Regions from separate parts of the Homo sapiens genome. Here regions 2 and 3 are each reported to be linked to region 1. Evidence: microRNA targets listed by miRTarBase, many of them from high-throughput screens and not tested one by one. Region 1 holds a microRNA gene; each other region holds the end of a gene's coding sequence.
What was found. Region 1 holds the annotated microRNA hsa-miR-3176 (ACUGGCCUGGGACUACCGG, at 2,620-2,638, shown strand). A microRNA usually pairs through its seed, bases 2 to 8, with sites in the 3' UTR of a target mRNA and lowers its output. Matches are read on the target gene's strand: a 7mer-m8 pairs with bases 2 to 8, a 7mer-A1 pairs with bases 2 to 7 and ends in A, and an 8mer does both.

Region 2: the mRNA of MAU2 is a reported target of hsa-miR-3176. Seed matches in the 3' UTR shown: 8mer at 1,541-1,548 and 7mer-A1 at 1,230-1,236.
Region 3: the mRNA of TMEM184A is a reported target of hsa-miR-3176. Seed matches in the 3' UTR shown: 7mer-m8 at 1,845-1,851.

Annotation. Positions count from the first base shown.
Region 1 is chr16:540,717-544,781 of GRCh38, forward strand. MIR3176 (microRNA 3176) reads left to right here and starts at 2,561; the gene lies at 2,561-2,650. The region is part of intron 3 of CAPN15 (calpain 15); the gene reads left to right.
Region 2 is chr19:19,355,425-19,359,482 of GRCh38, reverse strand. MAU2 (MAU2 sister chromatid cohesion factor) reads right to left here. Exons shown (of 19, transcript NM_015329.4): 19 at 729-3,775. The coding sequence ends at 3,701. LOC124904656 (a long non-coding RNA gene) reads left to right here. Exons shown (of 2, transcript XR_007067163.1): 2 at 522-772. Among named protein-coding and RNA genes, the nearest start is that of MAU2, 37 kb to the right of the region's middle.
Region 3 is chr7:1,543,473-1,547,530 of GRCh38, forward strand. TMEM184A (transmembrane protein 184A) reads right to left here. Exons shown (of 9, transcript NM_001097620.2): 9 at 1-3,709. The coding sequence ends at 3,480. Among named protein-coding and RNA genes, the nearest start is that of TMEM184A, 11 kb to the right of the region's middle. RefSeq lists an enhancer at 948-1,097.

The sequences.
Region 1 (4,065 bases):
CAAAGCTGCCAGCACTCGCTGGGCTCCGCCTGCTGCCCCCCCGGGGGTCACAGGCCACATGGCTTGGTGGCCGAACTCCACGTGCTGGCTCCTCACAGCTGTCACCATGGCCTTGGCTACCCGCTGCGTCCCTCAGGAGCTGCCATCAGGTTCTGAGGTGCCTGGTCTGGAGGCAGTCCAGGTGGTGAGGTCTGGACTGGCTGGACCCCACCGATGCTCCTGCCGTCACCCCGTCCTGGCCCTCACTGGAGGCAGGGACACTCAGGGGCCCGGGGCCTCGGGGCCAGTGCTGCAGTGGCCGCCGTTGCTCTCACAGCGGGTCCAGGCCTGGCTTCTGAAGGCAATGTGCCTGCGTCTCACACTCAAAAGGGCCTGCCAGGCTGCACCTGGCGGCAGCTCCCACGGGGGACGATGTCCTGCTGTCTGTTGGCCCCCAGGTGGGAGGGACGGGCGTGGAGCTGCAGGCAGTGGGCAAGGCCATGGCAGGTGGCCAGGCCTGGGAACCAGCCTCCAGGTGGCATCCACGCTGAGGCCTGAGCTCCGGCCGACAAGGACTGGGGATGCAGGGGATTAGCCAGGGGCTGTGTGGGGGAGCCCTGGAGCCCTGTCTGCGAGTTACCCCGATGAACAGGGAGACGCGGCAGAGGCAGGGCCGGGGAGGGGCCGTGTGGGGGAGCCCTGGAGCCCTGTCTGCGAGTTACCCTGATGGACAGAGAGACGCGGCAAAGGCAGGGCCGGGGAGGGGCCGTGTGGGGCCTGGTGGTCGGCAGAGGAAGGGTCTGTGCTCCTCCTGCGTGTGGTGGCACCGGAGCGCCTCCCAGTTCCTGGTGTTACCGCACCAGCCGCCTCCCAGTGAGCATCTCCACGTGTGCCGACAACAGCTTTGTTGAGGTAGAACTTACCAGACTCACCTGTTAAAAGAGTGCAGTTTGGTCACTCTTAGTGGTTTGTAGAGTTGTGCAGCCGTCATTGCAATCCAGCGTTGCAGCATTCCACAGCCCACAGGGACCCCCAGCCCCACAGTCCAGTGTTACAGCATCCCGCAGCCCAGAGGGACCCTCAGCCCCAGACGGCCACTGACCGGCTTCCTGTCTTGGTTTGCCTTGTGCAGAAGGTGCGTGGATGTGGGGCCACAGGACGTGGCTGGCTGGGTTTGCCTTGTGCAGAAGGTGCGTGGATGTGGGGCCACAGGACGTGGCTGGCTGGGTTTGCCTTGTGCAGAAGGTGCGTGGATGTGGGGCCACAGGACGTGGCTGGCTGGGTTTGCCTTGTGCAGAAGGTGCGTGGATGTGGGGCCACAGGACGTGGCTGGCTGGGTTTGCCTTGTGCAGAAGGTGCGTGGACGTGGGGCCACAGGACGTGGGGCCCCGTGTCTGGCCTCTTCACTCGGCACCGTGCCCTCCAGATTCATGCACCTGCAGCCCGAGGCAGTTTCATTCACTGCTCCTTTGCGGGATGAACCGCATTTTATCTATTCATGGACGCTAGGACTGCTTCCACGTGGCTTCTGTGGACAATGCTGTGAACATTGTTTACGAGGTTTTGCGTGGACCTGTTTTCATTTATCTTGCATAGATACCTAGGAGTGGGATTGCTGGGGCGTGTGGTGAACTTTCATAATGTCTTGAGGAACTGCCAAGCCATCTTCCGCAGCGGCTGCATTACCTAGTTCCCACCGGCAACGCTGGGGAGGGTCCTGGCGTCTCCACTCCCTCGACAGCTCCTGCCGTTGTCTGTCCTTGTGATTCTGGCCGTCCCAGGGGGTGGGAGCTGGTGTCCCCTTGGCTTTGATCTGCGTTTCCCTGGTGGCCAGCCATGTGGGGCCTCTCTCCCTGTCTCATCCACCCGTGCCTGTCTTTTTTTCATTCATTCACTTATTTATTTATTTAGAGACAGGGTCTTACTCTGTCACCCAGGCTGGAGTACAGTGGTGTGATCACAGCTCACTGCAGCTTCTACTTCCTGGGTTCAAGAGAACCTCCCATCTCAGCCTCCCAAGTAGCTGGAACTACAGGCGTGCACCACCATAGCTGGTTAATTAGAAAAAAAAAATTTGGCCAGGCGCAGTAGCTCACGCCTGTAATCCCAGCACTTTGGGAGGCCGAGGCGGGTAGATCACCTGAGGTCAGGAGTTCAAGACCAGCCTGGCCAACATGGTGAAACCCCATCTCTACTAAAACAAAAATTAGCTGGGCGTGGTGACGGGCACCTATAATCCTAGCTACTAGGGAGGCTGAAGCAGGAGAATCGCTTGAACTTGGGAGGCGGAGGTTGCAGTGAGCCAAGATTGCACCACTGCACTCCAGTGTGGGCGACAGAGTGAGACTCTGTCTCAAAATAAAAATACAAACCCTGAGCTTGGGAGGGTCCAGGCTGCAATGAGCTGCGATCGTGCCACCGCACTCCAGCTTGGGCGACACAGTGAGACGCTAGACGGTGTCTCAAAAAACTTAAACAGAAAAATGTAGAAAGGATTGTCGTTCCCTTTCTCGTTTTCCAGAGGGCAGAGGACTCTCGGCCCCTGCTTTTTGAGCACCAGGCCGAGTTTCAGACCTCGGGATGGCCTCTCCAGTCTGCAGCTCCCGGCAGCCTCGGGCCACACTCCCGGGATCCCCAGGGACTGGCCTGGGACTACCGGGGGTGGCGGCCGTGGCTCTGGCTATGGGGAGGGAGGCAGAGCCGCGGGGCAGGCGTGGGGTCTGCTGTGCCGGGTATGTGGGGCGTGTGTTAGACTTTGGACCTGGCCTGCGGGGTCAGGCCGTGGTGTATGATGACGCCACGCCGCTCTTTCTCTTTCACCCTGGCCTCCTGCCTGGCCCTCCCCTGGGTCGGCATCCCTGGGGCCACTCCTGCCCGTGCCCGCTGCTGTGGGGCCTGGGCTCCAGGCAGCTCCTGTCTGCTGCTGCAAACAGGCCCCCAAGGTGCATGGTGAGGAGACCCCCAGGCTAGAGATGGGCGAGAGCGGTGGGCGAGCAGACTGCGGGAAGGCAGCTGGGCCTCCACACGCGGAGCCCTCCCCACCACGTGCATGCACAGGCGACCCCTGCCGTGCTCCGACGGAGGGCGCCGGGACTGGGGAGGGTCAGCGCGACAGCCCTGGCGTTTACTGAAGAGCTGCCTGCCTGGCTCGCTGCCCTGGTGGCCGCTGAATTCTCCCAACGCCCCAGGACAGCAGGTGCTGTGGCCCCATGACCGCTCCCCCACATGGATGAAGGGGTGGTGCACAGGCTGGTGGAGCCTGGGAGAGCCAGGGCAGCCTGCGGCCATGCGGCCATGCGGCCGGCGTGGGGCTGAGGTCCCTGTACAGCTGACAGAGTGCCTGGCGCCCTCAATCAGTAAGTCATCTACGGGCCGGGCACCGGCGGCTCAGCACAGAGAGGCAACAAGGGTAGACCCCCCCTGGCAAGGCTGACCGGCGCCGGGCTGTGGCCAGACCAGGAGACTGCAGCCCAGCTCGAGGGAGGCACCACGCCTGCCCCTCAGAGCACTGAGCAGAGCCCCCCATGGTATCCCCCGCCCTGGGCACAGCAGGAGGAGCTGCCGACCAAGTCTGGCACCCCGGTGTGCCCCGAGAGCTGTCTGGGCACAGGTTGCGGGGCTGCCCCGGCCGGACGGGGCATCTGTGTTTCTCGGTGTGGCCTCAGGGCTCTGGTGGCTTTGACCGAGGCCCCGGGGGACAGAATGCAGCTTCCTGCTCCTCACTTTTCCTAAGAAAGGGGCCGCCTCCCAGGACTGGGGCTGCGCCAGTCACAGGCCCGCGGCCTCCACGCTCCGGGTGCTGCTGTCCCGGCTGCTTCAGGGCGGGCTCTGTCTTGCACGCAGCGAGCGGCTTCATCACCTCCCTTTTGAATTGGAGCTGAGTGTCGGCAACGCCCAGATAACTGGGGCGCGCGGGTCTTTTGTGCTGGATTTTTCTGTACAGTTGCCTCGATCTTCCATCCAGCTTGGCCTCTGTGCAGTAAGGAGCGGCCCGTCGCCTCCCCCACGTCGCCTCCCCCACGTCGCCTCCCCCACGTCGCCTCCCCCACGTCGTCGCCTCCCCCACGTCGCCTCCCCCACGTCGTC
Region 2 (4,058 bases), not on the chromosome of region 1:
TTTCACCTCCAAACAAAAAAATCTGGGCAAATAACTCCCCTCACTCCCAGGTGTATGGAGGCTGGTCCCCTCTAAGAATGCAGGGACCGGCTGGGCGCGGTGGCTCAGGCCTGTAATCCCAGCACTTTGGGATGCCAAGGCAGGTGGATCACGAGGTCAGGAGTTCAAGACCAGCCTGGCCAACACAGTGAAATGCTGTTCCTACTAAAAATACAAAAAATTAGCTGGGCTTGGTGGCGGGCACCTGTAATCCCAGCTACTTGGGAGGCTGAGGCAGGAGTATCGCTTGAACCTGGGAGGTGGAGGTTGCAGTGAGCAGAGATCGCGCCTCTGCACTCCAGCCTGGGCGACAGTGCAAGACTCCATCTCAAACAACAACAACAACAAAAAAAAACACAGGGACCAGGACACCTGGGTGCATGAGGGAGTCTGCCCCTGAGAGGGCTGGGAAGGGAGGATTCCAGGAGCAGGCTGCTGAAGGCCTCATATGCTGATGGAGCATGGGGTTCCTTCCTCTCTAGGCGAGGCCAGACCAGAGGAAAATGATCAGTGGAGGAGATGGGGACTCAGGCTTCCATTCACGTCATCTGGCTCAGGATTTGGGGACTGCATCCTCATGCTGAAGACCCCGCCACAGAGGGGGCCCCTGTGGGCATGGCAGCAAGGGTGGCAGCCGTCTTTGGGATGGCTCACAAAGCGGACAGAGGAAACAACAAAGACACAGCACGTGGCTCCTGTAAGTCATTTTACTTTGAATATATAGGAAACAAAATCCACAAACAGGAAGCTATGTTCTATGGTTATGTCTTTTAAACAATGTTCTGTATTTACAAATTGTTTTTTTCCCTAAGTAAAAGCACCAGCTGAAAAGTTATAGGCTGCTAAAACCGTTACAAATATTACAAACCCATTAAAAGACATTATGCCAAACGTACTTATTAAAAACCTTAACAAAACGAAGAGACAACTGACAACGCAACCAACCAATTGAGCCACCATGCTGGGCTGGGTGGCAGTTCCAATTTCCTTGCCTGTGTTTCTGATAAACGGGGCTGGGAGTGCTTATCCCAGGGAGAGGATCCTCGCCCACCGGCAGGTGACTACAGGGACAGAGCTGGGGAGAGGCAGCTGTGTCTCAAGGAAACATGGCAGCCTCACTTCCTGCTGTAGGTGGCCTCCTGGTCAGACCCCCTCAACCCACAGGACAAGGGCAGAGGCATACAGGAGGGTCTGGCCAGCTTTCGGCTGTTCATCTGTCAACAGAATGCCTTTCTGCGACCTTGTCCTCATCCACTGAAGGGTTTGGAGTTTTTGTTTTTTCCTAGACACTTAGCTACAGGACACTGTGTGATGTGTCCTCAGGGACTTGCTGTCTGCCTTCCATTGTTTTTTTTTTTTTTTTTGAGACAAAGTCTCACCGTCACCCAGGCTGGAGTGCAGTGTCGCGATCATGCTCACTGCAGCCTCAATCTCCTGGGCTCAAGTGATCCTCCTGCCTCAGCCTCCCAGTTAGCTGGGACTACAGGCATGCGCCACCGTGTCTGGCCTCTATTCTTGCAATTGAATGAGATGCTATGAGGCGCTGAGCGACCCACAGGAAAGTACTTATCAAAAGCTTTGTGTCATGAGAAGATGCGGCTGTGGAAGGAGGTTCAAAGCTTGCACACACGCACACACACACATGCACATGATTTGGCTTCCATAAAGCTCGAGTAGAATATTAAATATTGAGTACTGAGTTTTTAATTGTAAACTTAAGATCTCATCCTTAACTTTACATATACATAGATAACAGGGTGGTCATGAAAAGCACTTTAACATCAGGACAGATGTTAAGTTCTGAGGTTCTGTTTTCAACTGCTCTACATACAAAATGCCCTACAAGCAAAGAAAGGCTTAAATAAATAGATGGGGATGAACATGATGCACGCCGTGGTGACATGAGTGGTGTGCAGGGGTCGGACAGTGCGGAACCCGGGTGGGCAGGAGCACATTGTGGAGACACAAGTGGTGGCATCTCTGGGATGTAGGGGAGGATGTGGGGGGCTCCTTCAAGGTGGAGCTAGCAGAGGCCATGGCTCGGGAGGAAGACAGGACAGGGACAGTTTGTGGGCCAGTGCCACACGCTCTCCTATTGGCTTCATGGGCCTGGGGGCAGCCCTGGGTAGCAAAGGACAGGGCCAGGCTCTCCCCCTGGAGACCCAGAGATGGCGGTGGTCCTCTTAGGACAAACCCTCACCAGCCCCGCCCTCTGACCAGCCTGTCACTGGTGCTGATGTCAGGTGGTGGCCAGTGAGGAAGGGGGTTATTGACAGCCCTGCCTGTGGCTAAGGCACACCCAGCCTGGGAGCCCCAAGCAGCTGACCTGAGCAATCCAGCGTCCCTTTAGTCACAGACGCCAAAGCTCCCAGAGGCAGTTCCACTGAGTGAGGGTGACAAGACCTAAAACCACCACCTACCCTGCTGAGCAGGACCCCCACCCCCTGTAGCAGGGAGAGGCTCCTGGGCCCCAGAAGCTGGAGGGGGTGGTGTCTTGAGCCCTGACACCTGCTGCTGCTATCTTGACCCGACCACCCGCCCCAACTCGGAATGCCACACTGTGACCACTGGGGCACCTCCTGATTATCCAAGAAAAGTGGATAAAACCAAACGCTGCTGTCTGGGCCCAGCGGAGGCTCCCTGGGGCCTGGCTAGGGTGCGGGTTTCACACTGTGCCCCAGAGACCCAGCAGGGAAGGTGAGGCGGTGGAGGGAGTGGGGGGACCAAGAGGCTGAGCAGGGAAGGCCACAGATCTGCCAGGAAGAAAGTCCCTGGGCTCCAGATCTCGGGGGCGGGGGGCCCGTGCCACGCACTCTAAGCTAGCTGAGGAGGTGATCTTAAATTTAGGAGACGAGCCCACTCCCCCGCTTCCTGCCCCTCAGCAGCCACAAGATGGGGGAAGGTGGCTGGTGCAACAGGAGCCTCAGCTCCCAGCTCCATCTCCACAGATCTTCACCGCACACCCGTGTGCATCCACATGCACACCCGTGTTTACAATCACCTGCACCCCCACGGCGGGATGGCGAGTCCGGTCAAGGTGCAGATGTTTGGAAGCTGAGTTCCTGGGTCCCTGAGGGTTCCTGACCAGAGGCCCCAGCTGCTGCAGGGACTGATGCTGGAGAGAAAGCTGGGAAAAGTGCTGGGATCTGTGCTTCGTCCCACACTAGCGCCATTACTTCTTCCCTCCAAATTCAGGCCAGAAACTGGCATCCGGGCTCTGGAAATTGCCTTGAGCAGAGGAAACACTCTACTCCCGCTCGGCATCAAGGCCTGGGTGATGGAGAGTCAGGCGTGGTGCCCCTGGGGCACTGCCTGCCCTGGCACACAGGATTAGGACCTGCTGGAGGCCTGCACCCTACTCCTGGCCGACGTGACCCAGATGCTGAGGCAGGACTGGCACTGAGGTCCACTCTGAAGGATGGCTCTGGAGAGACAGCGCCTGTGTGCCACCTGTGAGCCTCTGCACTGGGGGTCCTGCTGCGAGGTGGGAACGGCTACCACCCCTCCTGGGAGGGCAGGGACTGGCCCCGCACATTCCCAGGACTTGGAAGCTCTAGAGACAATCAGGAAGGAAGCACGCCTCGGGGGCAGGCTTGAGTGCCGTCTGGGTGGAAGCCGGAGACGCGCAGGCCCTGCGGAGCTGGATGGCCCCATCAAGGCCTCACAGGAGGCTGGCCAGGCTGGTGTTGGGTCCATTCTGAGCTTGGAACTGCACGGGGGGTGGACCGTCTGTCCACTGTGGGGAGGAGAGGACATGCGAGTGAGGCACTGTGGACCGTTCCCAGGGAAGAAGAGGTTGGAATGCTGCCTTCCTTGGGCTGCTCACACAGCCGGGACTCTGTTCTCCATGCCCCAGTCCAATGGGCCCCGAGGAGACACCTGGGTCCCTTGCTTGGGTGGGGGTGCCCATGGCCATCTCCCCCATCAAGGGATCACCTGAGGCTGAGTTAGGGTTTGTTGGACAAAAGAGAAATACAGCCAAGGTGCCCCTTCCTCTTGCAGGTGGGGAGCCCGCTAGT
Region 3 (4,058 bases), not on the chromosome of region 1:
AAGCGCCCCTGCACAGTGGCCGGAAGCCCGTGGACTCCTCCGAAAAGCCACGGGCCTGCCCGCATGCCGTCCCCACCCCGCCCGGCCTTCCCCGTTTTTGGGGCTGAGCTGACCGAGGTGTGAACGCTGTTCAGTGCTGGACCACGCAGGGTGAAATCCCAACTCGAGTTTTTTGAGACAGTATCTTGCTTTGTCACCCAAGCTGGAGTGCAGGGGCGTGATCACAGTTCACTGCAGCCTCGACCTCCCAGGCTCAAGCAATCCTCCCATCTCAGCCTCCTGAGTAGCTGGGACCGCCGGCACGCACCACCACGCCCAGCTAATTTTTGTATTTTTTTTTTGTAGAGATGGGGTTTCACCATGTTGCCCAGGCTGGTCTCAGACTCCTGGGCTCAAGCAATCCACTCGCCTTGGCCTCCCCAAGTGCTGGAATTACAGGTGTGAGCCACTGCACCCGATCATAATCCCAACTCGCAGCATCTGTGTGGCCTGGGGCCAGTTCCCTCCTTCCCAGCCTTGCTTCCTGTGAGTTGGGTGTGGAGGTGAGTGTGCAACAGCTGGCACATAGCGCAGTGAGTGTTGAATCTGTGCTGGGGCCACAGCAGCCCGAGCTTGTCACTAGCAATGGCAGGGATGGCACTTTCCCCAGCTAAGTCAGACCTCCCTGCAGCCCACCCTGCGGCTCTGGGCCCAGCCTGCTCCTCCTGGGGGAGCCGACGGGTGTGAGTTGGGGGCACAGAGCCCCAGCCCTGTGTGGGGCTCCTGGAGGCTGCGGACAGACGGGGAAGCTGTGAAAGGAGACACCGCCCCGCCCGGCCATGCAGCCTGCACCCGGGCCAGGCCAGGGCCCCCAGGGCTTCCACCGTTTCTTGTGGATGCTGGGGATTTTCAGCTGGACCATCTCCCAGAGAAGGATACTGAGGCCAGGAGAGGCTAGAGAGCTTGGCGGGTGCGCTGGGCCCAGATACGCGGCTCCTGCCTGCCTCATGGCCTGCTCCTCTGTCGGGGCCTGTCACCGGGAAACCCCTTTTTTAGCAGCGATGACGACACTGGAACCACGCTAGTCTCCGTCCCTCCCGCTCACATGCGCCCACGCTCCCCCTCGAGGCAGGTTGAGCCCCGGCCTGGACCGCCCCACGCTGCCTTCCGTCCACGCAGAGCGGGCTCGGCCCTCAGGGCTTTCCTTCGAGTCGTGTTGGAAAGAAGCAGAAGCAGCCTCACCCGTGGGGCGGAGGCGTCTGAGGGTCAGGAGGCAGGGAGGAGAGAGGGCCTCTGTGGAGCCGGCTGCCTGGTGTCCAAGTCCCTGCTCTGTGACCTCAGGCAACTTGCTCCGTCTCTCTGGGCTCGGTCGCTGTCCCAGCTGGCTTGAGCGTTGAGCATGTCAGTTTCCTGGCACAGTCCTCGGCTGGTCTGAGGGGGCATTTGGCGGAAACTGACTTCTCCCCTGTCCTAAAGTGCAGGCCTGAGGTGTTGCTGACATAGGGGCTCAGCCCCTGACACCTCAGCCTCTGCCGCCCGGAGCCCAGGCGGTGTCTGGGTCTCCAGAAAGGGAGCCCTCGGCCACACACCCTCCAAACGCAGATTTGAGCAACTTGACCCCTATCGGGGTGGCCTTCCCCACGGCAAGGGCAGAGCAGGCCTAGAGCCCAGCCAGTGCCCCCAGCCTCCAGAAACTGCCCCTCGGCAGCAGGTCCCTGGGGACCTGCTGACAGAGTGAGACACGGGGGCCGCCTGGTGGGTCTATTCCTGTGGGGATCCAATAAGACAGGTGGGCGTCTTTGCAGCCGTGCAGGGAGGAGCTCAGCCTATCTTATCAGGCAGCCGGGCTGGGCCCTGCAGACCCACTGGCCTTGGATCCCCATGTCCTCAGCCCAGGAAGCAAGAGGCTGGGAGCTGGCCCTCTCTAGCCCGGACTCCACTGGTCTGTGCCCGCCCTGCTGAGTCCCTCGGAGACCCCAGGTCCCGCTGTTCCTGGTGACCGTGGCCATGGGTGGGGGGCAGCACGGGTGGGAGCCGCGGTCCCGGGGTGGTGCCCACTGGAGCTTCCTGTCTGCTCTCCACGCCCAGTGCCTGAGCCCCCCAGGCCTTGCCCACTTCTGCTGCCCCTGCCCCAGCCCCCACCCAACCTGTGCTGCGGGCCCCAGACACACAGAACTGACTGCCACCTGCAGGCCGGGTCACCGTACTGTCCCCTGACGGGCCCTGGGCCTGGGGGGCGCCCTGCAGTGACACCCCTCGCCCTGGGCCAGCCGTGTGTCCTCCCAGAAGCCCCCTTAGTCCCTGGGCGGCTACTGTTCTTGCGGCCGCGATTTCCGAGGCCACTTGCACGCCTCCAGCTTCCTGCGGGCAGGGCACGCGTCCGAGGCTCCTCAAACCCAGGGCCCCACCTGGCACGTGGAGGAAGAAGAGAAGGGCAGGAGGCAGGTGCCCAGGTGGGAGCCCCCTCTGTGCCCCCTGGGAGTGTCCCCCCCGCCCAGGTACTCAGGGCCCTGCCTTCGTGGCCTTGTCCGCTCGCCGCGGGTGGGGCTGGCACAAGGCCCGTTTTGGAGGAAGTGGAGGCTCCCAGGAGAAAGGCAGTGGCTGTGATCGCACAGCCCAGGCTCTGCCCTGCACTGCCCTGGACCACGAGGCTGCCCACCCCAGACAGGTGGGACCCCTTTCCCGCATGCAGACTCTGAGCAGCAGCCTCCTGTGACCCCCACCGCGTCCTGCTCCTCAGGCTCATGCCCTGCGGGAACAGAAGCCAAGACCCGGTAGAAAATCCAAGGTGTTTAAATATAAATAAGAGCGATTCCCACAGCCCCACGGTGCTGGCCAGCCTCACAGGTGCCCGCTGGTTCTGTGACCCATCCCAGGCACACGCTCCCCTGGCTGGGCGCCTGGCCAGGGCTCCCCTGTGGCTGGCGTGTGGAGACACGTGGGCCCTTCTCCACGTGCCCACGAGGGCCGTAGCAGGCTCCAAGGAGGCCCAGCCCCGGCCAGCCTGTGTGGACCCCGCCGGCCTGCGGCGCCCGGAGCTGCTGACTGTGTCAGAGCCCGGCTGCCCAGCGCCCCGGCGCCCCTCCCTCCAGCTGCCCAGCCTGGGATCCGTCCGCTGTCTGTCTCCTGAACCAGGGAGTCTGACCCACTCACAGCTCCCATGGGGTCCGTGCAGCCAAGGCCCCGCAGCCACACTCACTCTCCGCCCCACAGTGGCTCCTGGGGCTGATGGCTGGGTGATCCCAGGGGGTCCCCAGGCTCTTCCGATTGGCTCAGGTGCCCTCTCCTGCGGTGGCGGGCCCACCTGGGTGCCTGCCAGGGCCATCAGGTGCCCTGACCCCCTGGCTGGAGGGAGGATGGGAAGTGGGCTCCGAGGGCCTCACAGGTGGGCTCTCAGGAGAGGCCCCACCTTTGGCAGGAGTTGGTGGGTGGGGGGACCCTGTTCTTCCCCAGAGGCCTGGGCAGCCTGGGTCCCTACAGCACTGGCAGCCCAGGCCCCCCTACAGGTCCTCCGAGGGGATCAGCATCCGCTTCTCCAGGCTCCGGCTCTTCCTGCTCCCGCCGGAGCCGCCGCTGGGGTGGGTGCCGGGCCTGGGCGCCTCGTGCGTGGCCTGCTGCGTGTAGTGCTGGTAGGCGGGGGAGAAGTTGTGGATGGCGTCCTGCACGATGTCCTGGGGGCTCACTGTCTCCCTGATGCCGCTGGAGATGCTCTGCATGGGTGCCGGGGGGGCTGGGGGAGGGCAGTGTATGAGCCCCACCATCCCCCCTGCACTCCAGCTCCCCGGACAAGTCCCCTCCCAGGATGCCCAGGGCTGTAGCTCCTGCATGTCCAGGTCTGGCCTCGGCCAGCAGAGGGTGGCCCCAGACCCCTGGACCCCAGCCCAGCTTGCTCCACCCAGCACCGGGCCCGTCCCTGGCCAGACCCCTGACAAGGACCACGTCCCCTAGAGCTTCCGAGGGGCTCCAAGCAGCGGAGTACGCCTTTGGCTGGCCTCGGGTGGGCACCCTGGTCTCTCCACAGTGACTGATGAGAAGCCGGCAGGCCACAGGCTGTCTCCGCCCTAATAGGGGGTGTGCCT